Homo sapiens: one gene and its partners. The protein of the gene in region 1 interacts with the protein of each later gene in a pairwise test. Each region holds a gene or a part of one and is shown on either strand. Other genes may lie near its edges.

What was found.
Region 2: the proteins of TRIM59 (region 1) and RASSF3 interact in binary tests that used the Homo sapiens proteins (3 or more experiments, as listed by UniProt).
Region 3: the proteins of TRIM59 (region 1) and UBE2J2 interact in binary tests that used the Homo sapiens proteins (3 or more experiments, as listed by UniProt).
Region 4: the proteins of TRIM59 (region 1) and PDCD10 interact in a two-hybrid assay, tested with the Homo sapiens proteins (one large-scale study listed by BioGRID).
Region 5: the proteins of TRIM59 (region 1) and SPTSSA interact in a two-hybrid assay, tested with the Homo sapiens proteins (one large-scale study listed by BioGRID).
Region 6: the proteins of TRIM59 (region 1) and PBX1 interact in a two-hybrid assay, tested with the Homo sapiens proteins (one large-scale study listed by BioGRID).
Region 7: the proteins of TRIM59 (region 1) and TEX30 interact in a two-hybrid assay, tested with the Homo sapiens proteins (one large-scale study listed by BioGRID).

Annotation. Positions count from the first base shown.
Region 1 is NC_000003.12:160,446,987-160,450,954, forward strand, and holds the start of TRIM59 (tripartite motif-containing protein 59), read right to left. Parts: upstream 2,801-3,968; 5' UTR 2,731-2,800; intron 1,810-2,730; 5' UTR 1,740-1,809; intron 1-1,739. UniProt on the Homo sapiens protein: E3 ubiquitin ligase involved in different processes such as development and immune response. Serves as a negative regulator for innate immune signaling pathways by suppressing RLR-induced activation of IRF3/7 and NF-kappa-B via interaction with adapter ECSIT.
Region 2 is NC_000012.12:64,613,495-64,616,994, forward strand, and holds part of RASSF3 (ras association domain-containing protein 3), read left to right. Parts: intron 1-3,500.
Region 3 is NC_000001.11:1,260,355-1,263,854, reverse strand, and holds part of UBE2J2 (ubiquitin-conjugating enzyme E2 J2), read left to right. Parts: intron 1-468; coding exon 469-509; intron 510-1,464; exon of another isoform or gene 1,465-1,570; coding exon of another isoform or gene 1,571-1,586; intron 1,587-3,500. UniProt on the Homo sapiens protein: Catalyzes the covalent attachment of ubiquitin to other proteins. Seems to function in the selective degradation of misfolded membrane proteins from the endoplasmic reticulum (ERAD).
Region 4 is NC_000003.12:167,689,893-167,693,392, forward strand, and holds part of PDCD10 (programmed cell death protein 10), read right to left. Parts: intron 1-3,500. UniProt on the Homo sapiens protein: Promotes cell proliferation. Modulates apoptotic pathways. Increases mitogen-activated protein kinase activity and STK26 activity. Important for cell migration, and for normal structure and assembly of the Golgi complex.
Region 5 is NC_000014.9:34,455,741-34,459,240, reverse strand, and holds part of SPTSSA (serine palmitoyltransferase small subunit A), read left to right. Parts: intron 1-3,500. UniProt on the Homo sapiens protein: Component of the serine palmitoyltransferase multisubunit enzyme (SPT) that catalyzes the initial and rate-limiting step in sphingolipid biosynthesis by condensing L-serine and activated acyl-CoA (most commonly palmitoyl-CoA) to form long-chain bases.
Region 6 is NC_000001.11:164,565,684-164,569,183, forward strand, and holds part of PBX1 (pre-B-cell leukemia transcription factor 1), read left to right. Parts: intron 1-3,500. UniProt on the Homo sapiens protein: Transcription factor which binds the DNA sequence 5'-TGATTGAT-3' as part of a heterodimer with HOX proteins such as HOXA1, HOXA5, HOXB7 and HOXB8. Binds to the DNA sequence 5'-TGATTGAC-3' in complex with a nuclear factor which is not a class I HOX protein.
Region 7 is NC_000013.11:102,765,388-102,768,087, reverse strand, and holds the end of TEX30 (testis-expressed protein 30), read left to right. Parts: intron 1-609; coding exon 610-815; intron 816-1,507; coding exon 1,508-1,687; 3' UTR 1,688-2,200; downstream 2,201-2,700.

The DNA of each region.
Region 1 (3,968 bases):
TTTAATGGGTACACAGTTTCAGTTTGGGAAGATGAAAAAGTTAACGGAGATAGTTGATGGTGATAATTACAAAACAATTTGAATGTATTTAATACCACCAAACTGCATACTTAAAAAGATTAAAATGGTAAATTTTATGTTTAGCATATTTTACACAATAAAAAAAAAACTTTAAAAAATTTTCAAGCGTCTTGCCTATTATCCAGTCTTCCTTTTGCTAAATGAATTTGAATCAATTTATACTACTGTATGTTTTTAAAAAGCAAAAAAGTAAAATAATCCATGTAAAATGTATTTTCCTCTAGTGAGTACTAAGCTCATGTAAAAACCAAGTTCAAGATTTCCTGCTTCTCTTTTAAAACCGAGAAATATTAATATAAAAAAATGAATCTTCTCAGAAAGAAACCTGAGGCTAAATCACTCTACTTACAAATTATTTCACTAATGTCTAGTGTGTTTAAGTGTCAAAACAAATACATTTCTGAATTTCCAAACTTTTTATTAAGTCTTTCTCCAGAGGGCCAATTCACTAGTGAGCCTCCCTGATGTCTAACTGGCATATTAGGTAATAGACAGTATAATAGATGATTAAATAGCACCGAAAATATCATTACCCATTCTCCTGTGTAAACCAGTTTTTAAGTTTTAATTCACTAATGCTTTCCTGCCTTTCAACTCTAAACATGAACAGTTGTAAAACGTTCATTACATTTCACAACCTCTGAAAGGAAAATATATTTATTACATTATAGAATTCGATGACTTGTCCCAAGACTTCTAGTGAGTCAGCTTTAAGTATGGGAAAATTCAAGTGGTGCCACCACCCAAACTGGGGCTCACATCTTTGTGGACCTAACTGATAAAGAAGAAATACATTTCATGCAAGTCAAGACTTACTTAAGAAATAACTACAACTGCACCATTTATAAACATATATAAGATTTTTTTAACATTATCGCAGAAAGTCTGAGAAACAAGATTTTTAAAAATAATTCTGTCACATATAAATATACAAAAATAGTGAGAGATCACCTTAACTTTTTCAAATTAAAAAAATCCTATGGTCAGCTGATTTTAAATCTCTTTGTCCATCTGTACTATTTTCTTTCATTTTGATATCAACCTGTTTCCCTAAACTAAAAAATAAAAATAAAAACTAGAAACAAAACAAAAAAAGACTATTAATTCAATTTAACCGGAATTGACTTGAGAAATTAAGGCTTTAATTGCTTTTGCTGTACTTTTCAAAGTAAAAATATATCTGGTGGGAAATATTCATCAACGTGTTTAGTGAAAGGCAATGTCAAAACTAACATCACCTAAAATCAAAATTTCACCTTGCCAGATTAAATAGCTACTTACTCATTTAAAAAGACCAATACATGAATGCATAGTGAAAAAGTATCCAGGTAACTTAATTTGCAGTTTTGTGTAGTTCTGCAGATCTGTATGTATAAAATAACAACTTTGCATGTGTTTTGAGATGTACACATTCTTGTAAAATTTCTAGAAGGATGTACAAAAGAGTTAAGTGACTACTTTTAAGGTACAGATCAGAGAAGGGAGTTGTTTATTTTTCACTTTATGCTCCGCTCCTTCGATAAAATGGTTGGAGTTTTATACACCGCCAACACAATGTTTTTTCAAAAGACTTCTAAATTTCACTTTGTAGTTTAAATCATACACTCTGTAAAAACTTAATTGTTTTTCATATTTATTTAATCTCCCAGATTACCTACTTTGTTGATCTCGTGGTTTGGGGGCTGAATACACTCTTCTCCAACTCCTCCAGAATCTTTTATTCTTATTCTAAAATTAAAATAATGTTATCTTTAATGTTTTCAATTTATTGTCTCATGTCATAAAAATGGTTGTTAGTTCACTGTCTTTGATATTTATCTTCACGATGCTTCATCGTGTTTTCAGAAAAGCCACAAACACCAACACAGTTGCTGGAGCTGCAGTAGAGGTATCGCTTGTTCCTTGAAAATCCTAACTCTGACCAAACAGACTGTCACAAAGGACCTCTTTTCACAACGTCAAGTAGCTTATGAGCTCTCGACAATATTACCCAACAATGGTGATGGCAGAAAAAACATTCACGGTCATTTTAGAGTGCTTAAAATTAACTGCAAGACAAAAGCATCCATGGGAGTAAAATACCTTGCCAGCTCTAAATTATAACTGATTTAGTATAGTTTGCTCATCTCTCTGTTCTGCCATTTCAATGCTGTGGGACCTGGGTCAGTATTACCAAATACCTCTCAAAAGTGAGGCTTCACATCTGTAAAATGGGTAACTGCACCTACCTCACTTAAGTCCTGCGAGCACCTCCCACAAAGGGGCTCAAAATGGCAGTACTCTTCCCTTCCCCTTCTCAAAGCTCCACTCTCCCAGGCCTCCCTCCTAACGCGCCTCCACCTCGGCACCCGCCCGTCCCCAACCCCGCGGGACTGACCGACTCGGCGGCGTCCGCTCAGCTCACCCTCGCCACCACAGAGGGCCTCCTCCCTCACAGGAACGCAGCTCCACAGTGGAGGGACGGGAAAGTGGCTCCCCAAACTCCAGTATGGGACAAGAGGGAATGAGTGCAGGTCCCAAGCCACTCCCTCCATCGTCGCGCCCCCAGGACTCCCCGCCCAACACACTAGGCACACCAGACTGTGCTACAGGAAAAGAAAAAGGACTCAGAACCACCTTCTCCGCATCCGTAAAGGTCCTTAGACTCACCGCGGGGAGGAAGCGGACCAGGCAACTCCACAGCACGGAAACACAGCGCCACGAGCTCCAGGCGGATGCTGAGAGCCGCCCCGAGTCCCCGCCCTCCTCTGCCCCGAAGGGCTTCAGGTGCCCAGACCGGGCGGGGCCTCGCGGAGCCTCGCAGCGCAGGCGCAGTCTGCAGGCAACATTCAACTGCAAGGCATCGGCCAATGGGAACTATTGCTGGGCTCGTTCGAAAGTAAACGGTGGACGGCGCGGCCCGAGGCAGGTGGCGGGAGTCAGTTTAAGGCTGGCGCCCAGCTTTCCGCGCCTGCGTGCTAGGCGCAGGCCGCCTCTCGGAAGCTTGGCCTCGCAGGAGCGGCTCTCTATCCTGTGGGGAGCTTCGGCCAGTGGGCCTCGTGAGCTGGGGTCCCGCCTGGGGAATCCGCATGGCACCGGTGGTCTGGGGGAGAGGCTGGGCCTGGCGCGGGACGAGGCGAAGCGCCGGTGGCCGACGGCTTCTGAGGAATTATCTTTTACTTGGCGCCACACGGGGCGGGGCCTCCTGCTATGCTGTGGAGCGCAGTGTCTTCCATCGTTGCCTCACAGACCCGCTGCTCCGGGAAGTCGCCACACATTCTCAGGGAACACCCACATCTGTCGCCTGCGCCCTCCGCCGCTCAGCTGTTTGCTTTTGTTTACGCATTCCGGAGACCTGACCCACCGGAGCACTGGGCTGAGCACAGGAGAAGGGGCTTTGGAGCGCTCTTTGTACTCAACTCCAAGAGCGAGTGGGAAACTCAGGACTGGGTTGGGTAGATCCCTGCGTCTCTCCCTAGCCTTCGTCCTCTTCCCCCGTTTTTCCACTTTATGAAAGTATTGCCTAGAGATGAGGGCTGTCCAACTCAACACTTCCAACTTCAAGTTCCTACTTCACCTCTAACTCCCTAGAGTTAGAAAACAACGTACAGCTTAGAGGTTCCTTTCCCTTTTTTTCTTGAGAAACTTTATTCAGCTTTATCTCAAGACATCACCGCTTCCCTCTCCTGTCAACCTTAAATAGTGAGGTTCTGGAAATATGATTAAGGATAGAGTTTATTCCAGCGTAAGGCTTGAGGGTAGCCACCCAGGAGACACCAGCTCCAAATGGGGTTAGCATTCCAAAGTGAAGAAGTTAGGGTTTCGCCTAGGTGGCCAGAGACAAATTTTAACAGGATTTCATTTCCCCTAAGAGACCAGTGCATACTTACAGCTATTTGGTAGGTTAC
Region 2 (3,500 bases), on another chromosome or scaffold:
ATTTCTTTCTTCTCTTGCCAGGCAAGGGAACATAGTGCAACTTCTTTCTATCCCCAACAGTAACAAAAACCTTATAAAGAAAATGTTTTCATTTTTTTTCTTACTTTAAACCCCATTCTTAACAACAAGAACAACAACAAAAATGGAAAAGGGTTAAAAAACCTGTCTAGGCCACGTGTGGTAGCTCATGCCTGTAATTCCAGCACTTTGGGAGGCTGAGATGGGAGGATTGCTTGAGCCCAGGAGTTTGAGACCAGCCTGGACAACATGGTGAAACCCTGTCTCTACAAAAAAAATGCAAAAATTAGTCAGGCATGGTGGTGCTCGCCTGTAGTCCCAGCTACTCGGGAGACTGAGGTGGGAGCATTGCTTAAGGCCGGGAGGCAGAGGTTGCAGTGAGCTGTGATCGCACCACTGCACTCCAGCCTGGGCAACAGAGCGAGACCCTGTCTCAAAAACAAAACTGTCTAAAAGATATAAAGGGAACGAACATATGACGTTTTGTGGCAGTTTGAATGTCATGTTTATTGTATCCGCAGGGTCTCGATCAGTACCTGATATACAGTAGTTGCTCAGTGAATGCAAGCTGAATGAATGAATGTTTTCCTGATTTGATAGTAACTGGGTCTTTACCATTTCTTTTTTTTTTTTTTTTTGAGATGGAGTTTCACTCTTGTTGCCCAGGCTGGAGTGCAATGGCGTGATCTCGGCTCACTGCAACCTCCGTCTCCCGCGTGCAAACGATTCTCCTGCCTCAGCCTCCCGAGTAGCTGGGATCACAGGCACCTGCCACCATATCCAGCTAAATTTTGTAGTAGAGACGGGGTCTCACCATGTTGGCCAGGCTGGTCTTGAATTCCTGACCTCAGGTGATCTGCCCGCCTCGGCCTCCCAAAGTGCTGGGATTACAGGCGTGAGCCACCGCACCTGGCCCCTGATCTTTACCATTTTCAAATGTACTGTATCTTATGGTGCTCCCAAAAACTGTATGAAACATTAACTTAATGAAAGGGGGAGGTATTATTTAGTGATTGTATAAGGCCCACACCTAGATAGCAAGAAGGCTGGAACTCAGGTTTTCAGACTCAAATTACACTCTCTATTTTGTTACTTTTTAGCTATAAAAATAATTTTATGGCTCCATATTCCCTTTGCAAATAAGGACACCTAAAATTTAAGAGTTTCTTAAAATTTCTTTTCTTTTCTTTTTTTTTTTTTTTTGAGATAGATTCTTACTGTGTCACCCAGACTGGAGTGCAGTGGCAGGATCTTGGCTCACTGCAACCTCCATCTCCCAGGATCAATTGATTCTCATACCTCAGCCTCCTGAGTAGTTGGGATTACAGGCACCCGCTGCCAGGCCTGGCTTTTTTTTTTGTATTTTAGTCTAGATGGGGTTTTGCCATGTTGGCCAGGCTGGTCTTGAACTTCTGACCTTAAGTGATCTGCCCTCCTTGGCCTCCCAAAGTGCTGGGATTATAGGCATGAGCCACCGCGCCTGGCTGTTTCTTAAAATTTCAACTCCCTGACCTGCATATAGTCATGACAGTGTTTATAATTTGTATTTGTGGATTCACGTATTTGTGGATTCGCTGTGTTTCAAAGGATCCACCTAATCATTGTTTTCAGCAAAACCAAAAATGTGGACAGTTGTGTAATTTATTATTTGCCTTCTTGATTTCCCACCAAAATCAAACTACCTGTAAATACAGGACACATTCAGATTTCCAAAGAATAGAAATGGTCTAAAGTTATAATCTGTCAGAGTGTGTCTTACCTCTTAGCTAAGCTACCTCTCCTCCTGAGCCTTTGGTAGTTCATGGGAATAAGGAAATGAGACAGTATTTTTGCTTTAGAAGTAGGGTAGTCAAGAAGTCTTGAGAAACGTGAAATTGTCTTCTGAACAACCCACACTTTAAAAAAAATTGCGCTGAAGAATTTTACTTCAGTAAGTAAGTCTATTAGACTCCCCATAGCAGGCCTCAACTTCACCCTTTCGGTTTTCTCTTTCTTATTCAAATATTTTTGTGCCTCAATTATTTGGTTGTGTCTTATTGCTAGAATCAACAGTAATGAGCTGCACTCTTTTATTAGTGTTTCCATTAGAAGTTTAGAGCTAGATCACTGGGGTAAAAGAATAGTGGTTTATGACATAATAGGTATTTTGACTCTACTAGCCTTTTTCTTTTTTTTTTTTTGAGACGGAGTTTCGCTTTTGTCACCCAGGCTGGAGTGCAGTGGTGTGATCTCGGCTCTGCAACATCTGCCTCCTGGGTTCAAATGATTCTCCTGCCTCAGCCTCCCGAGTAGCTGGGATTACAGGCTCCCGCCACAGTGCCTGGCTAATTTTTTGTATTTTTAGTAGAGACGGGCTTTCACCATGTTGGGCAAACTGGTCTCAAACTCCTGACCTCAGGTGATCCACCCACCTCGGCCTCCCACAGTGCTAGGATTACAGGTGTGAGCCACCACTCCTGGCCTATACTAGCTTTTTAAATGCTGATTTTTAATTCCCGTATTATGGGGCATAAACATTTTCACCAGACATTTTGCCTAGGGCAAGGTGATTTACACATCTTTTCTGCATGTCTGATATGTTCTGTTCTTACACGATATTAATCCATTGGAATTTTGTGTTTGTGTGAGCAAGATTCACAAAGGCATATTCCTTTAAATGAATTTCAGAAGAAAAAGTTTCCAGTCCTATAAAGCCTCATATTTGAGTAGTATACTCCTTATCCCATTTCTTCTTCTGGCCAACTCACAAGATTTGGAATTATTTGGAAAGCAGTGACACAAAACATTTTTGAAAAGAAAGGCTAAAAATATCCAATAATGTGGTTATTCTTTTTAGACTTCCTTTGGCAGTCAGTGCATGTCATACGGTTAACATTCTTTTTCTGGGAGAAAAAAAAACTGAGTCTGACCAAATACTTTCTAGTGTGGCCTGATCACCAACTCTTAGCCCTGGGCATTAGCCCTCGCATTTTCCACCCCCAAGTCTCCAAGCATAAGTAGCTGTCTTTCAATAAAGGCCCCAGTTTGAAACGTGTATTTCACTCCTAATTTGGCCAAAGGCCATTGGCTAGCAGTCCCTCTTCAGAGGGGATGGTGAAAAGACAGTAGGATATATGATAAATGCATGCAAAGGAGCTTCTCTTCTATATGACAAGTCTTGGCTAACTTAGCCTCTTTGCATCTTCCTCTGTTTGAAGAGCTACACACATTTGCCTTGTAGGAAGTTTTTATTCTCATGGCAAGCAGGCATTACCTCTATTACAAGGCCCCGCTTATTGTTCACCCTGTGATGTAAGAGCTTTTAGGACTCCAACAATATTAGCCTTCTCTTTAATTCCTTTCAGGCCCCATCGCCATCTCAGAACCATGGCCTGGAGTTGCCGCCCTCCATTCTCCTTAACATGTCGACTCAGAAAAGTCTTAAAGCCCGCTGTTCTTTCCCTTCATAGCAAAAATTATAATTTATCATTATATTTTGTTTA
Region 3 (3,500 bases), on another chromosome or scaffold:
CACCCGGCTAACTTTTTTTTTTTAAATAAAGGTGGGGTCTTGCTATGTTGCCTAGGCTGGTGTCAAGCTCCTGGGCTCAAGCGATCTTCCACCGTGCCCTCCCAAAGTGCTGGGATTACAGTCTTCAAGTACATCTTAGTAATGTACTGTGAAATTAAAATTTATTTAAGATTTCAGTTATTATTAAGATGAGCTTCGTGCATGTTATATTGTCGAAACAAAGGTACTTTATGGTAAACTTATAAAGTATAGTCTCTAAGATCCTGTTACAAGAGACTAAAAGCACCCACGGTAGAAGAGACGGGGGTTTTGAAGCCGTGTGGCTGTGTGACATTTCACCTTCATTTGTTCACTGCCTGAATGTGAATGTAATTTTGGCTGGGTTCTATAAACCCCAGGCTTGGAATGATTCAGATTTTGGAGAATTTGCTGTCCTCAAATCCCAAGTAATTTTCTTCTCTCCCTTAGGCACTATGTCGTCCGAGGCCCAGAGATGACCCCTTATGAAGGTAAGGATTCTGTGCTTAGGAGAAGAACACCAGGCGGTTTTTATATTCTCAGTCAGCCTTGCCTGTTCAACATCTTTTATTTGCAAACAGCAGCCTTTCTACTTTGGATGTGTGCTAGTTAAATTGGCTTAGTTGGAACTCCTCCTCGTCTGCTTCTCCACACGCTGGAAGTGTTTGCTCTGCTGATGTGTCTCAGCCTGCAGGGCCGCCTGTAGCGTCTGTGTTCACCAGCCTCTGACACCATAGGGCCATAGCTGAGAAAACCAGACCGGGGTAAACACTGAAGCTGGCCTGTTCTACTATTTCTTAAGACCCAGTGCATATCATCAAAGGAAAGGCACATATATTCAGTTATTCAGTGTGCCTTCTGTGCTGGGCGCCCCCAGGGTTTCGCAATCCCCAGGACGGTCTCTGAGCTAAGTGGAAGTACCCCTGTGTGGTGGCACCTGGGGCTTCGGTAGGCTGCAGGACCTGTCCAGCACCTCAGCCCTTCATCGACTACCAAGGCTGATCCAGCAGCCTGACCCCTCCAGGTCAGCAGACACCACCTAGAGACCTAGTGTCATTTATAGAGAAGATGCTGGAGCTGTCAGTAAGTTTCTGGGGCCTTTGGCGGAGGCTGGCGCCAGCCTCGATCTGGACCAGGTCAGTAGTCAGTGTGCCCGTGAATACTGTCCCGCCGGCAAGCACAAGGCAGAGCAGGGCCAGGTCAGCAGTTGCTGTCCAGCCACAGGGCCCCGGCTTCAGGTGGCTGGAGCAGCAGGCTCTGTTTGCCTGTGTGTGGAGGCTTTGGATGAGATTTCACTAGAAGAGAGTGCTGCTGCTAGAAGAAGGTTTGCAACCCCTGCTTTGGACTGTCGGGAGGGTTGTGGGTGGGTAAGAATGAAAAAGGCTCTCCTGAAGGCATTTTGGCCGAGTTAACACAGCCACACCTGTGGACTCTCCTTTGGCCCAGGAATCCCAGTTCTGGATCATCTGCAACTAGGGCAGCCAGAGTGCGGGAGTACATCTGTAGGGTGGGCCCTCCATCATCGTGTCATTGCCCATGACCAGCGTTGGGGATGCCAGCAGGCCGTGGTGAGATAAGGCCCGGGAGCAGGTGTCCAGGGCGTGTTAAAGTACTTGTTACGATGCGTGTGTGTGCCTTCAGCTGATCTGAAGAATATATACCACCGAGTGAGTAGTGGTCGGCCGGGCGCGGTGGCTCACGCCTGTAATTCCAGCACTTTGGGAGGCTGAGGTGGGCGGATCATCTGAGGTCAGGAGTTCGAGACCAGCCTGACCAACACGGAGAAACCCCATCTCTACTAAAAATACAAAATTAGCCGGGTGTGGTAGTGCATGCCTATAATCCCAGCTACTCGGGAGGCTGAGGCAGGAGAATCACTTGAACCCGGGAGGCGGAGGTTGCAGTGAGCCGAGGTCGTGCCGTTGTATTCCAGCCTGGGTGACAAGAGTGAAACTCGTCAGGAGATCCAGACCATCCTTGCTAATACGGTGAAACCTTGTCTCTACTAAAAAAATACAAAAAATTAGCTGGGCGTGGTGGTGGGGCCCTGTAGTCCCAGCTACTCAGGAGGCTGAGGCAGGAGAATCGCTTGAACCCAGGAGGCGGAGCTTGCAGTGAGCCGAGATCGCTGCACTCCACCCTGGGTGACAAGATCAAAACTCCATCTCAAAAAAAAAAAAAAAAACCAAAATGGGTGGTGGTCTTTGACAAGCAAAATTATGCCAGCTTTACATTTTTTTTGTTTGTTTTGTGGTTTTAGTTTTTTAAAAATAAATAGTGAATATTAATTCTGTATCCACACCCAGTCTCCCTCAACTTCACCAGCTAGGTCAGTTGCTGGTGGAGATGAGCTGCTCCCCCAACAGGGCTGGACACAGTTGGGAGAAGAGGGGGCAGCCCCTGGGTGTGGTGCGGCCGTTGCCAGCCCCAACCCTGTCACTTGTGCTTTTATCTTGGTCCCCTCCCATCGCTTCCGTTGTTCCCCACAACCGTGTGTGGCTCTGTGCTGGTCCTGGGTCTCAGGAAAGCCTCCCTTCAGAGAGAGAATGTGTGTTCCTACTGCCCCTCCCATTTCCCTCTATGGCACTGCTGCTCCCGTCCCCGCGGACCTCCCCCTCACTGGGGGATGCCTTTTGCTCTCTGCAGCCCTGCCCTCTGCTCTCCTTCAGGGTCTCCAGGGAACCCCTCCGAATTGCCACTTGCCGAGGGGCTGTTCTCAGTCCTCAGTTTCTTAGCCTCTGGTATCTGATGCTGCTGACGACAGCTTCCTTCCTGACTTCGGGATTTCTGACCCCTTTTCCTGCCTGTGCATTAGCTGCGTCCCCTCCGTGCACTGGGTTCCGTGGCTGTTCTGCCCCTGGTGCTGCCCAGGCGTGCCCACTCTGACAGTTCAGAGCTGGCTTCCTACAAATGTTGCTAAATCATTCCCCTTGAGTGAATCTGTAGATTTCACACAGTCCTAACAAAATCTCAGTTTTTTATACTACACAAGCTACATGCAAAGGCAAAGGACCTAGAACAGTTAAAACCATTTTTCTAAAGAATGAAGTGGAGTCTGTGGTTTCAAGACTTACCCCAGTGATGAGGGTCAGGCAGTGGTAGAGGAGGGACAGGCCATGGGGCAGAGTAGCCAGCTAGGCCTTTGCCTCAGGCTTTTCAGCAGATGGCCTGGGGTGTGGGGATGTTCAAGCTGCCAGGGACCCACTTCAGGACAAGTGGGTGCTTCCTGATTTTCATCTGGTGCTGTGAACGTCTGTGTGTGTGTGGCTCTTGGTGCCTTTGTCTTGGGTTTCTCTGGCGGGTGACAAGCAGTGGGATAGCCGTCTGGGGCTTCCCGATAGGTGTGCGCGCAGTGAGGCAGCAGGGCGCCCGTCTCCCATCCCGACAGGTGTGCGCACGCAGTGAGGCAGCAGGGTGTCCATCTCCCAGCACCCTCTGCGCTCAACTGGCTGTTTCCTGCCGTGTAAGTCACTCTTGCCCAT
Region 4 (3,500 bases), 7.2 Mb from region 1:
GTTATCCATATGTACACAGAAAAGTATTTTCATTTATGGCACCAAGGTGTGCACATAGAGAAGCTAAATTATATTAGTAACTACCAGAGAGTTTGTTTCCTACGAGAGAAAATACCAGGACAAAAAAACCACTATAGACAATTAACCAGATAAAGAACTGAGAAAAAACTTGAGGGTAAAATAAATATCGCATAACTAATGAATGCGGCTTGGTGCAGATGAATTCTGTGATAAGAGGCAGATAGTATGAGTAGAAGGAGAAGGAACTTAGCAATTTGCACCAACCTAATAGCGCAGCTTTGCGAAACATTACACTGAAAGGCAAAGGCTTCAGATGAAACGTAAACATACATCTTATCAAAAAACTGCAATAGAAAAGTAGAGTTTCTAATCATGCCACCCAAATTTGCATGATACGCATTTATGCAAATGCACTAATGAAAGGGAATCCCTGTGCTTTATGTTGAGTTTGGTTTAGACTGGAAAACTCTGAAAAAATCTATTCTGAACCCTTCATGAAAACTCCTAACTTAAAACAAATAAACCTTGCTGAATTTTAGCCTAAGAATATGCAAATGCAGATTACAAACAGTAAATAAATGCCTGGCTTTTTTATTTTGGTCTGTTAAATCACGAGTCTCCACTAGTTTTCCATTAGTTGAGATGTATTGGACTTCAAAAAAAATACAAATTAATTTTATAACATATTTGCATAGCTCAAATGTACTCAGGCACACACATTCATTGATCAAAAGGCCTTTTGAAATATTTGCTGGATCATTTTTCCTTATCAACTCCATTGAGAAAAGGGAGGAAAATCCTCATTTCACAATGTTATTATAGCATGTACTGTTGAATGTATGCTAGGTTCTGTGCTAGGCACTTCATGTACATCATTTCTTTCAATTCTCACAAGTCATTACCCTCATTTTCAGAGGCACAAACTAAAATGACAGAAGTTAAGCAACTTATATCCAAGGTTACATAGCTAAATGTTGGAACACAGATTCAAATCTAGGTCTGCTAATATATTCAAAATTGCCTGAATATTTATTAGCTGTCAGGATTCTTTTTTACTTGTACTTTGATACAATCTATAGCATCACCTATAGTACTTGGTGTAATATGTATATGACATATGCTTATTGAAAAATGTTGCTAAAATGAATAAAGGGGATAACTACCTTAGATATAAGAAAGTAAAATATTGGAGAAACGCCTGAAGAAGAAATCATTTTCTATTTTAGTGCAATTTTATCCACTAATTTGTCAATTAATAATGGTAAGAACATACATGAAAATGTACCAATATATGACAGTGATACAAATAATTATACTTTAGCCTATCTATGCTATTCATATGTGGTTGAATTTTAGTCTCAGAAATAACATACATATCAACAAACTTGCCAGGGCAAATTATCCCTCCTCAAATGGTTAGGAAGTAAATTTTCATTGCCACCATTACTCTTAATTCAATTGTGCTAAATTAGTACACTCTAGAAAACAGAACTGAAGTATTATTACTCCCTCATAAAGAAAACAACACCCTAAAGAAAGCCTCTGTCAATGACTATAGACAAGACTCTTAAGCTCAATTTCCTTATGACTAAAATGTGCTGCTAATAATGTGGTTTTCAAACCGCAGCTCCCTAGAGTCACAGACGGTTTAGCAGAGATGTCTCAGGGACTCTGTAGGGGGAAAGAGGATGTCAAAGTGACAGGATGAGAGCTCTGGGCCTACATTTCTATGCCAGTTTCAACCACAATACTGTTATCTCTCTCACGTACTGGCATTCTATGTTAAAATATCCTTTTTCACATTTCTTTCAAATGGCAGAAACTCTATTTTTCAATCTCCAGATTACATCAACATTGGAAGTCTGTGATTGGGAAACAGCAGTGAACACCTGGCATTAGATTGCCTGGGTTCAAATCCAGCTCTACCACTTAATAGGTAAGTTCTGTGGCCTTACCTAATTTTCTGTGCCTGCTTCAATTTCCTCACTTGTTACTGGGTTGTTGTGATAAGTAAATAAATGTAAAGTGATTAAAATAGTGCTTAGCATATAATAAGTCCTATATAAATGATTGTTATTAAGATGACATTGATTATATAAACCTACTTCGATGATCTGAAGCAAAATCTGCTGCAAATATTATTTTAAATGTCAAATCTTCATAGAAATGTGTCATGGCTCATCAACAAGTACACGATTATCAAAGCAAATGAAAACTTACCAAATTATTTCAAAACTTTAGAAATAAATAGTCTAAACAACTAAGTTTGGGATCACTGACAATTTATCCTTTTACAGGCCAAACATGTTTACTTTAACTATACAGGGCGAGTATCCCTTAAACAAAATGCTTGAGACCAGAAGTCTTTAGACCTGGGGATGAGGCCCAAGTATAAACATGAAATTCATTTATGTTTCATAAAGTGCATCCATATATGCATACATTTTGTGCATACAACAAAGTTTTGATTGTGTTTTGACTACAACCCATCCATCACATGAGGTCAGACGTGGAATTTTCCACTTATGGTGTCATGTCACGGTGCTCAAAAAGTTTTGGATTTTGGAGCATTTAGAATTTGATATTCAAATTAGGGATGCTCAACTTGTACCAGATTAAAAATAAAACTCCATGAACAGTTGATTATCTTCCTCCTTCACATATTAAAAGTAGAAAAGGAAGCTGGGGCTTTCCCATAGGAAAGGTAAAATACAAAACCCTTAGGCCAGGCGTGTTGGCTCACACCTGTAATCCCAGCACTTTGGGAGGCCAAGGCAGGCGGATCACAAGGTCAAGAGATCGAGACCATCCTGGCTAACACAGTGAAACCCCATCTCTACTAAAAATACAAAAAATTAGCCAGGCATGGTGGCGGGCGCCTGTAGTCCCAGCTACGCTGGAGGCTGAGGAAGGAGAGTGGCATGAACCCGGGAGGCAGAGTTTGCAGTGAGCCGAGATGGCGCCACTGCACTCCAGCCTGGGCGACAGAGCAAGACTCCGTCTCAAAAACAAAACAAACAAACAAAACAAACAAAAAAACCCTTAGTGTTTGTCCCTTGTGACACAGATTTTGGCTATTCAATTAAAAGCCTTTTTTATATTCCTGGCCCTTAATTATTGTCAAAGAGTAGGGTCATTCCTTGATAGCTGGGTTGCATACCTATCACGAACCATTATTTTCTATGGGACATATTCCTCTCTTTATGTGACTCAAAAGAGAGTATCCAAACTAGCTAGGTATCCAAACAAGCTAAAATAGCATTTCTCAATGTGAATGACAAAGAATACTATTTTCAAAAGATGAATGTTTTCTTTTTCTTTCATAATTGAGATTTCATCAGTTGTGTTGAGGATCAGTACACAGACATTTCAACTTGTACATAATTCTGAACATATGTACTGCAAAATCTAAAAAGCCACGTATCATTATTATTCTCTAAAGTTATTCCAGTGACTTTCCAGCTTACAACTGAGGCAAA
Region 5 (3,500 bases), on another chromosome or scaffold:
GTCTGGTCTCAAACTCCTGACCTCAAGTGATCCGCCTGCCTTGGCCTCCCAAAAGTGCTGGGATTACAGGTGTGAGCCACCGCGCCTGGCCCAGATTAATTTCTTAAAGAGGATAGATGCATTAGTTTACATTTCCTGCTATATAATGCATTTTTAAAAATTTGAAGTTGTGGGCCGAGTGTGGTGGTGGACGCCTGAAATCCCACTAGTCGGGAGGCTGAGGCAGGAGAATCGCTTGAACCCGGGAGGCGGAGGTTGCAGTGAGCCGAGATCACGCCACTGCACTCTAGCCTCAGTGACAGAGTGAGACTCCGTCTCAAAAAAAAAAAAAAAAAAGTTGTAATTTCAGGGGAAATTGATAACGTACTATCACTGTACTTTCCAGGGGCATCCTTGAGCATCTGAATGGATGTTTAGAAATTATTTGCTTCTTGACTTCCCAAGTCAAATAGCTAGAAGTTAGTTAAAAGCTGTTGTAAATTGAAAGTCAATCTTGGCCGGGCGCGGTGGCGGTTCACCAGTCTGGCCAACATGGTGAAACCCCATCTCTACCAAAAAAAAAAAAAAAAAAAAAAAATTAGCTGAGTGTGGTGGCGCACGACTGTAGTCCCAGCTACTCGGGAGGCTGAGGCAGGAGAATCGCTTGAACCCAGGAGGCAAAGGTTGCAGTGAGCCGAGATCGTGCCACTGCACTCCAGCCTGGGCCACAGAGCAAGACTCCATCTCAAAAAAAAAAATAAAAAGAAAGTCGATCTTAGGCCTGGCGCGGTAGCTCACACCTGTAATCCCAGCACTCTGGGAGGCCGCGGTGGGCAGATAGCTGGAGTCCAGGAATGTGAGACCAGCCTAGAAAACATGGTGAAACTCAGTCTGTACTAAAAATGCAAATATTAGCCGGGTGTAGTAGTGTACGCCAGCTACTTTGGTGGCTGAGGCACCAGAATCTCTTGAACCTGGGAGGCAGAGGTTGCAGTGAGCTGAGATGGCGCCACTGCACTCCAGCCTAGGTGACAGCCTGTTCAAAAGAAAAAAAAATCTCAATTGAATATAAGTATTTTTGAACTTACCTATGTAAGGAAATTGCAATTTGTAAAAAAGATTTTAAGATGTGTTTTTAAGGAAAAGCATCTATTGGGTCAAGTCAGACACATTGTGAATAGTTCTTGAAACAGTAAGATTTATAAGTAAGTTTTGTAAATTCTTCCTCACTAGGGCCTATATACCATCTGTCTTTTCTTTTCTTTTCTTTGTTTTTTTTTTTTTTTTTTTCCGAGACAGTCTTGCTCTGTCACCCAGGCTGGAGTGCAGTGGTGCGATCTCGGTTCACTGCAGCCTCTGCCTCTGGGATTCAGGCGATTCTCCTGCCTCAGCCTCCCAAGTAGCTGGGACTACAGGCCGTGCCACCATGCCCAGCTAAATTTTTGTATTTTTAGTTGAGGTGGGGTTTCACCATGTTAGCCAGGCTGATCTTGAACTCCTGACCTCAAGTGATCCCCCCACTTCAGCTTCCCGAAGTGCTGGGATTGATTATAAGCATGAGCCAAGATGCCTGGGCTACCATCTGTCTTCTGATGAGACATTTGAAGTGATACATTGGCTTTTGGTTTGTCAAGGAATATTTGAACTTTTTCCATGTGCAGACATGTTTCTATCTTACAGAGAAATGGGACATGACACCTGCATTAAGACAAAAGGTAACAATAAAGAAGAATCTGATAAGTGCCAATTAGTATTACAGTATATACTACAAAAGGAGACCTACCATAGACTGAGAACCACTGACCTTATCTCAGGAGGAGACATTTTTAACATACCTTTCAAAAGTATCCTTTCCCTACTGGCATCCCAAGGTGGGAAAGAAAAGACCAGGTTTTGTAACCAAGATAGGCTTTTGTAACAGTGAGACACGCCCTGAAGTACCTCACTTGGATAACGTTGTAACCATTCCTGTTGAGAGTTGAGAAAATTAAAAATAGATTGTTAAAATAATTTGAATCAACTTTGGGAGGCTGAGGTGGCTGGATCACCTGAGGTCAAGAGTTCAAGGCCAGCTCGGCCAGCATGGTGAATTCTTGTCTCTACTAAAAATAAAAAATTAGTGGGGCATGGTGGCTGGCGCCTGTAGTCCCAGCTACATGGGAGGCTGAGGCAGGAGAATTGCTTGAACCTAAGAAGTGGAGGTTGCAGTGAGCCAAGATTGTGCCATTGTACTCCAGCCTGGGCAACAGAGCAAATGCTCCGTCTCAAAATAATAATAATAATAATAGTAATAATAATAATAATAATAATAATTTGAATCAGAAGTGTGCTATTTTAATCTTTTTTCTTTTCTTTTTTTTTTTGAGATGGAGTCTCGCTGTGTTGCCCAGGCTGGAGTGCAGTGGCGCGATCTTGGCTCGCTGCAACCTCTGCCTCCTGGATTCAAGCAATTGTTCCGCCTTGCCCTCCCGAGTAGCTGGGACTACAGGTGTGTGCCACCACGCCCGGCTAATTTTTATATTTTTTAGTAGAGACAAGATTTCACCATGTTGGCCAGGCTGGTCTTGAACTTCTGTCCTCAGGTGATCTGCCTGCCTCAGCCTCCCAAAGTGCTGGGATTACAGGCATGAGCTACCGCGCCTGGCCTAATCTTGTTTTATTCATTAAAAAATAAAGTCATATTAGTCTATAATCACTGGGCTATATTTGCCCATCTCTTTGCTGCTGATGATGTTTCCATGGCATGTTATTTTCAGCAAAATGTGGGCAGTTTTTTGGTTTATGTTAGGAATTAGATTCACCCTGAAAGACAGTTCATGTGTCTTGAAAACATTTTTTTCCCACTTTTAAACCACAGTGCTGGGCACACAAATAATGCTTAAAAAACAGTTGTTTATATATTGATTTGTTATTTTATTTTATTGATTTATTATTTTTTTGAGATAGGGTTTTGCACTTGTTGCCCAGGCTGGAGTGCAATGACGCGATCTCAGCTCACTGCAATCTCTGCCTCCAGGGTTCAAGTGATACTTCTGCCTCAGCCTCCCAAGTAGCTGGGATAACAGGCACCCACCACCACGCCTGGCTAATTTTTTGTTTTTTTAGTAGAGACGGGGTTTCACCATGTTAGCCGGATGGTCTCGATCTCCTGACCTCGTGATCCGCCTGCCTCCGCCTCCCAAAGTGCTGGGATTATAGGTGTGAGCCACCGCGCCCAGCCACACATTTTAAGCTGTATGTTATTTTCAGTAGCAACTAAATTATTTTCTTAGATTTTTGCTGTATCCTCAGATACTTACAACTTAGAATTAAAAAGGACTTTTTTTTTTTGAGATGGAGTCTTGTTCTGTTGCCCAGGCTGGAGTACACTGGCATGATCTCAGCTCACTGCAACCTCTGCCTCCTGGGTTCAAGCAATCCTCATTCCTCAGCCTCCTGAATAGCTAGGATTACAGTTGCACGCCACCATGCCCAGGTAATTTTTGTATTTTTAGTGGAGACGGGGTTTCACCATGTTGGCC
Region 6 (3,500 bases), on another chromosome or scaffold:
TTGCCAGCATATCTTTCATGCAGTTGATGGGTCGGAGGAACAAAGTGTCTGTAAAGTTGCAGGAGCTTTTTTTTTTTTTTCCCCCTCTTCTTCTTGATACAGAGCTGGTGAAAACATCGCTTGAGTGATCAGTTCACATACATTCCTTTATTGTTTGGGGACTTTTTCTATTGTTACTTTCAAGCCTTTTTGCATTAAATGAGTATTTTTGAGTTTCCATCTCAAGCATTATAATGCTTATAATAATAATAGAGGTTACTTGATTTAGGGTGGGCTTTGTTTGTTTGTATTCTAACACGAAGTTCATACATTTGGCTCACCTAGGCAGAACTCTTGAGAGGAACTTGGTAATTGCATTGATTTGTTATTTTTGCTTTTTTGCATTTGTTAATGATTTTATAGTTGGAAGACTTAGAAATAGATACAAAAACTGGCTAAGATGTATTACCAACCTTTTGGAACTTTAAAAATACATACACACATGCACGTAACACCCCAAAGTAGAAGGTGCCATCTGAATTACAATTGATTGATGGGTGTTTAAGTCAGAAATTACTGTGGGGATATTTAAAAAACAAAACAAAACAAAAGAACCCATGCATCTTCTTGCTTCAGAATGTGGGTAGTTTTTATTCTGATACATTTTCGCTTTTAAAAAAATAAATGCTAAGAAGAAGTGCCAGCAAAATGCTCGGGTGGCAATTCTCAAAGAGCAGCTAAAAAACCCTGTCAAGACCTATAGCAATGTATATTTCACATGTGGCTTTTATCTGCTCGCTCATTCTAGGAATACAGAGACAATTAGAGTTTTGGATCATTTAATATAACACTTTCTTTTGGATTTTTAAGATCCATTCCTTGTCTTCTGGCATATTAGTAATAGGCTAAGTTTTGCATATGTGTATATATGGTGGTAATGGGGTTGGTGGGATAGAAGAAAAGGAGAAAAAGTCAAGCATATTACATTTCTTTAAAAAAACCTTGAATATATTTTTAAACATTTCCTGATGTTTTTTATTCCTGTGTCAAAATCACGCAAGTTTAAAAATTAGGAAAACACGAAAAATATTGAATGCCATTTACTAAGGAGAATATTTATAGATAGCAATGAATAGCTGCAATTGTTGTGAATAGTTTTTAATTTTAGAACATAATAGCTATATATGGCACTTTTCAGCCAATTTTCCTCTGTGCATTGTCTGCATCAAAGTTAACGCAAATCAAATCTTTGGAGGAGGTTAAAAAAATTTATTTTTTGCTCCTTAACACCCTTTTGTTCTCTCTCTTTCCTTTTCTCTCTGTGTTCAATTAACACCCCCATCACAGAACTGTAGTGTGTGTGTGTTTTTTTAATTCTACTACTTTATTTCACTTTTGACACCCTCCCTTATTATTCTCGCCTGCCACTTCTTTTTAATATAGCAATTACATTATGGGACTTCTCCTCTCCTCTCCCCTTTAAAGCATTAGAGAATAATTTGTGTGTCTATGTATATGTGTGTGTGTATGTTTGCATATGTAGGTGGAGGGGCGGTGGGTTATGGAAGGAAGCTAGAGATTGCGGGAAGAGAATTCTGATGGTATTAGGCCTTGAGCAAAATAGGAGTAAAATAACTTTAAACCATTTAGAAGCAGCCTCTGATCAGATTCCTTTTGGGGTTGAAGTGGTAGGAGTCATTTTTGTAGAAGGTCATCGATAGCCAGCAAATGCAAAAACTTTTCTTGCTGATGAGAAAATTCAAGAATTTGGTTCATTTTTTTTTTTTCTCCCTCCTGGTAAAGATGCAGAGGAAAGAAAAGGGGATCAAATGAAAGGAACTTACAAATCAGTTTTACCTGATGCTATCTTTCAGGTACAGTGTGTTAAGGCAGAAGTAATGTGGTTAGACCCTATATTATTTATTTATTATAATGTGGATATAAGCCGTAGACCTACAACAATATAACTCTGACAGACATAATATAAGAAGAACTTGTAATGAGAAATGACTTTTCTTTTTAGTCACTTTTGTGTATTCCATTTTTAGTCTACTACTAGAATTAGAACAATTCTGGCTTTTGAGAAGTGCAAAGAGCAATTTGGTCAAAGCTGCCAGAATGAGAATTTGGGAAATTTTGGTGTCATTTTTTTCTAACAATAGGAGTGTCTGTGAGGATTGGACATGAGAGCGATTTAGGTTATACTGAAGGATCTGGAAGGGGATTTATAAGCGGGGAAACATAGAACCTTGTGAACTAAGAGCTGTGGGGCATTGAGCTGGGCCGGGTGTGGGTGGGTTCTGTACAGTAGGCTGCACTGTTGGCTGAGAAGGGGGCATTACCTGCCTGTGTGTTTAGTTCACTGCTGGTGCCAGACCTATTCACATGGTTTTGCCCCTGCATTCTGTTGACATCCATGAACTTTTTGTTGTGGTTGTTGGCAAAATTATAAAAATACCCCCAAACGAGCAAATAAACCAAAACCTAGATGTTGCACATAATTTAAATTGGAAGACATTTTCATTTGTAAAGCATGACCCTGACTTCTTTTGTGTCATAGGCATATCTTAGGAAAGCTTATTCTTCAATTTGGTTTCAAATCTCTTTTAGATGGATGATACTATGTTTGAACTTGGTGAAGCGAATCTAAATATTCTTTTTATTGCTTTTCCTTTAAAAAAAAAGTTTACCAAAGCACCACATGATAGAGACAGTGTCCTAGGTCCAGCTCCAAACAGCTCTTATTCATTCTCTTATGACCCTAAGAAGCACCCATTCATTTTCATTGCCATATTAACCTGATTTGGAGGAATATAATAATTTTGGTTCCATTGCCCTTTACCTGCAATGGTGTGGTAAGATTTAAGGAATGCAATAATTGATAAATAAGTAGAGAATTCATGAGTTGTTTGTGAAGTGCTTTGAGTTCCTGTGGGTTATGTAAATAATTAAGGCACTGTATTTTCTATAATAAATTATCTCAGGATTCATATCTTATTTCACAGGATATCACTGCATTTCACTCTTTCAGGCTAAAAAAAATGTACGTCTACTGGTCTTTAAGTAATGGGGTAATCGATCGTCGCTCATGAGGAAAGTTCTCTGGTTGTATCTTTGCCCCATCTGCATCTCAAAGATGGCACTTCTCGGAACTTAGCAGAGTGATCCCCAGAGGGGAAAAAAGGTGCAGGAATAGATTGTCATAAGATTATAACACCTATCCCCCATGATGGCAGAATAAGGTCAATAGTGTCTTACCCGAAGGTCTTCTTACCTCTAACAGCTCTCTTTCAATCTCTCAATTATTGGTGGAAATTGAGATTGCAATGGGTGGAAAATTCATCCTTTTTGGTTTAGGTTGTAGTTTCAACTGCATCTTCTACTGAAACTTTTGTCATTAAGTAGGTATTGGGGTGGGTATACCTCACACTCTGTGCTAGTTCTGGACCTTCTACTAAGTAGTTATAAGACCATAGAAAAGTTGCTTAAATAATTTTATGATAAACTATAATAGTAGTGGT
Region 7 (2,700 bases), on another chromosome or scaffold:
CTCATGTATATGTATTATAATCTGAGCCTCTCTCCTTTTATTCATATCCCTGAATCATCATCCTGCATATGATGATTCCTTTACAATGATTGTCCTTGTCCTTTTAAGTGTTCTTTAGAAAAATAATTGCCTTTTATTTTTTTAGCATTTAAGATCAATTTTTAGCTTTTTTTTTGAGACAGAGTCTTGCTCTGTCACCCAGGCTGGAGTGCAGTGGCGCCATCTCGGCTCACTGCAGCCTCCACCTCTGGGATTCAAGTGATTCTCCTGCCTCAGCCTCCCAAGTAGCTGGGACTATAGGTGTGCACCACCATGCCTGGCTAATTTTTGTGTTTTTAGTAGAGATAGGGTTTTGCCATGTTGGTCAGGCTGGTCTCAAACTCTTGACCTCAGGCAGTCTGCCCACCTAGGCCTCCCAAAGTGCTGGGATTACAGGTGTGAGCCACCGTGCCTGGCCTGGTATTGCAACTTGTTAATTGCTGCCTTTTGGAGTTAATTTGTTGGTAAACAGATATGATGAACAGTAAAAGATCCAATTTGCCACACCATCACTGCTACTTTATGTGAAAGTTTATATTTCAAACTGAACTTAATTTTAATTGATTTTAGGTCGTTCAATGGGCTCAAGAGCAGCTGCTTCTGTAATGTGTCACATTGAGCCAGATGATGGTGATGATTTTGTTCGGGGTCTCATTTGTATTTCTTACCCACTGCACCATCCAAAGCAGCAGCATAAACTCAGAGATGAAGACCTCTTTCGTTTAAAAGAGCCTGTACTGTTTGTGTCAGGCTCAGCAGATGAAATGTGTGAAAAGGTGAATTATAACTCAATGTTTGTGTCAATGAAAGAGAATGAAAGGCAGACATATCTTGGGAGCAAGATACTTCTGGCAACAGTGTCTTTTAAAAATTGCTAATTTGACTAATGCTAGTTTTGTGTCCTGGTTACTCTGTTGCTTTTGAGAACCTAAAAATATAAGTATAGTGACAAAATTTGTATCCCTGGAAATAGAGTTGGTAAATATGACCCTTACTTGGAAAATGAAGGATTAATATCTGAATCATCTGATTTTGGGATTACTACACTATAGATTTTTTTAATCATTTCAACATTCAGGCAGAGTATTTGTTATAAAATTGATTCTTGAGAAAGGGTTGGCAATGTCTACACATTACTAAATATTAGCCCAATATTATGAAACAACTTTATATTCCCCAGGGCATATAATTTGCTTGGGAAAAAGATTTTTGGGGGAAGAAATTTTTTTATTCCAATTTATTTTACATTTTATTAGTAATAAATGCTTGATCTGATACTGCTACAGCTGAGAGAAGTGGACTGCCACTTTTACGGACATTTCCTCACACATTCTATTACCTAGAAAGTTGTCTGAGAAAGCATTTAATGAATACTTGGGAATGAATGCCAGTATAGGCAGGGGAGAGAGGACCTTTTATTAAATATCAACAGAACATTAGTCTAGTATCCTCTTCTTTTTCTCTTTAGAACTTGTTGGAGAAAGTGGCACAGAAAATGCAAGCTCCCCATAAAATCCACTGGATTGAGAAGGCAAATCATTCCATGGCAGTGAAAGGACGGTCGACAAATGATGTTTTCAAAGAAATAAATACACAGATTTTGTTTTGGATCCAAGAAATTACTGAAATGGACAAGAAATGTCATTAGTTAAAAGCCATGTTATCTTGAGTACACATACAGTTAATTTGATAAAGAAGAGTATGCCTCTCAGCATTGTGAGATATATTTCAGACTAATTTGATGTTCTTTAATGTTCCCTTATTTTTGAAACACGTTTTAAATGTGAAATTAATGTCCTTCACAAAATGTCTTTTGAAAGCACTGTTACAGTTGTATAAAGATGATGTAAAAATATTGAAGGTGGTCTACATATAATTTATTTTCATTAGTATAGTTAAGTTTTGAAAAAAATTAAACATCTGAATTTTGTTACAAAAAGGTGCTTTTGTCTTATTGATAGGCAACTGAGAAATTTTGCAGAGCAGCGTTATCTTCAGAAAAGGAAAACATTATGGTTAATCTAGTCAGAGATTTATAGAATGCACACATCTCTTCACCTTATCTTTTAATAAATCACAATGAAAGGATAGGAGTGGACATATGTTTCAAATATGGGGACCCTGAAGATTTTTTAGAATGAAATAAAGATCTTTAATTCAAGAAGTGTTCACTGAAGGCTTATTACAGGCAAACCTCATTGGGTTTGCAAAGATGAATAAAAACTTGGAGCTTACAACATAGTGTGTGAGGCTGGGCACGGTGGCTCACATCAGTAATCCAAGCATTTTGGGAGGCTGAGGCAGGCGGATCACTTGAGGCCAGGATCACTTGAGGCCAGGAGTTTGAGACCATCCTGGCCAACATGGCAAAACCCTGTCTCTACGAGACCATCCTGGCCAACATGGCAAAACCCTGTCTCTACTAAAAATACGAAAATTAGCCAAGTATGGTGGCACACATCTATAGTCCCATCTACTCGAAGGATGAGGTGGAAGAATTGCTTGAACCCAGGAAGTGGGGGCTGTAGTGAGCCCAGAGCACACCACTAGACTCCAGCCTGGGCAACAGAGTGAGACTGTGTCTCAAAAACACAACATAGTGTGTAAAATCAATAGACTACTCTGATTAAAGAGAGAAATAATTGCTAAATTGTAGTACTA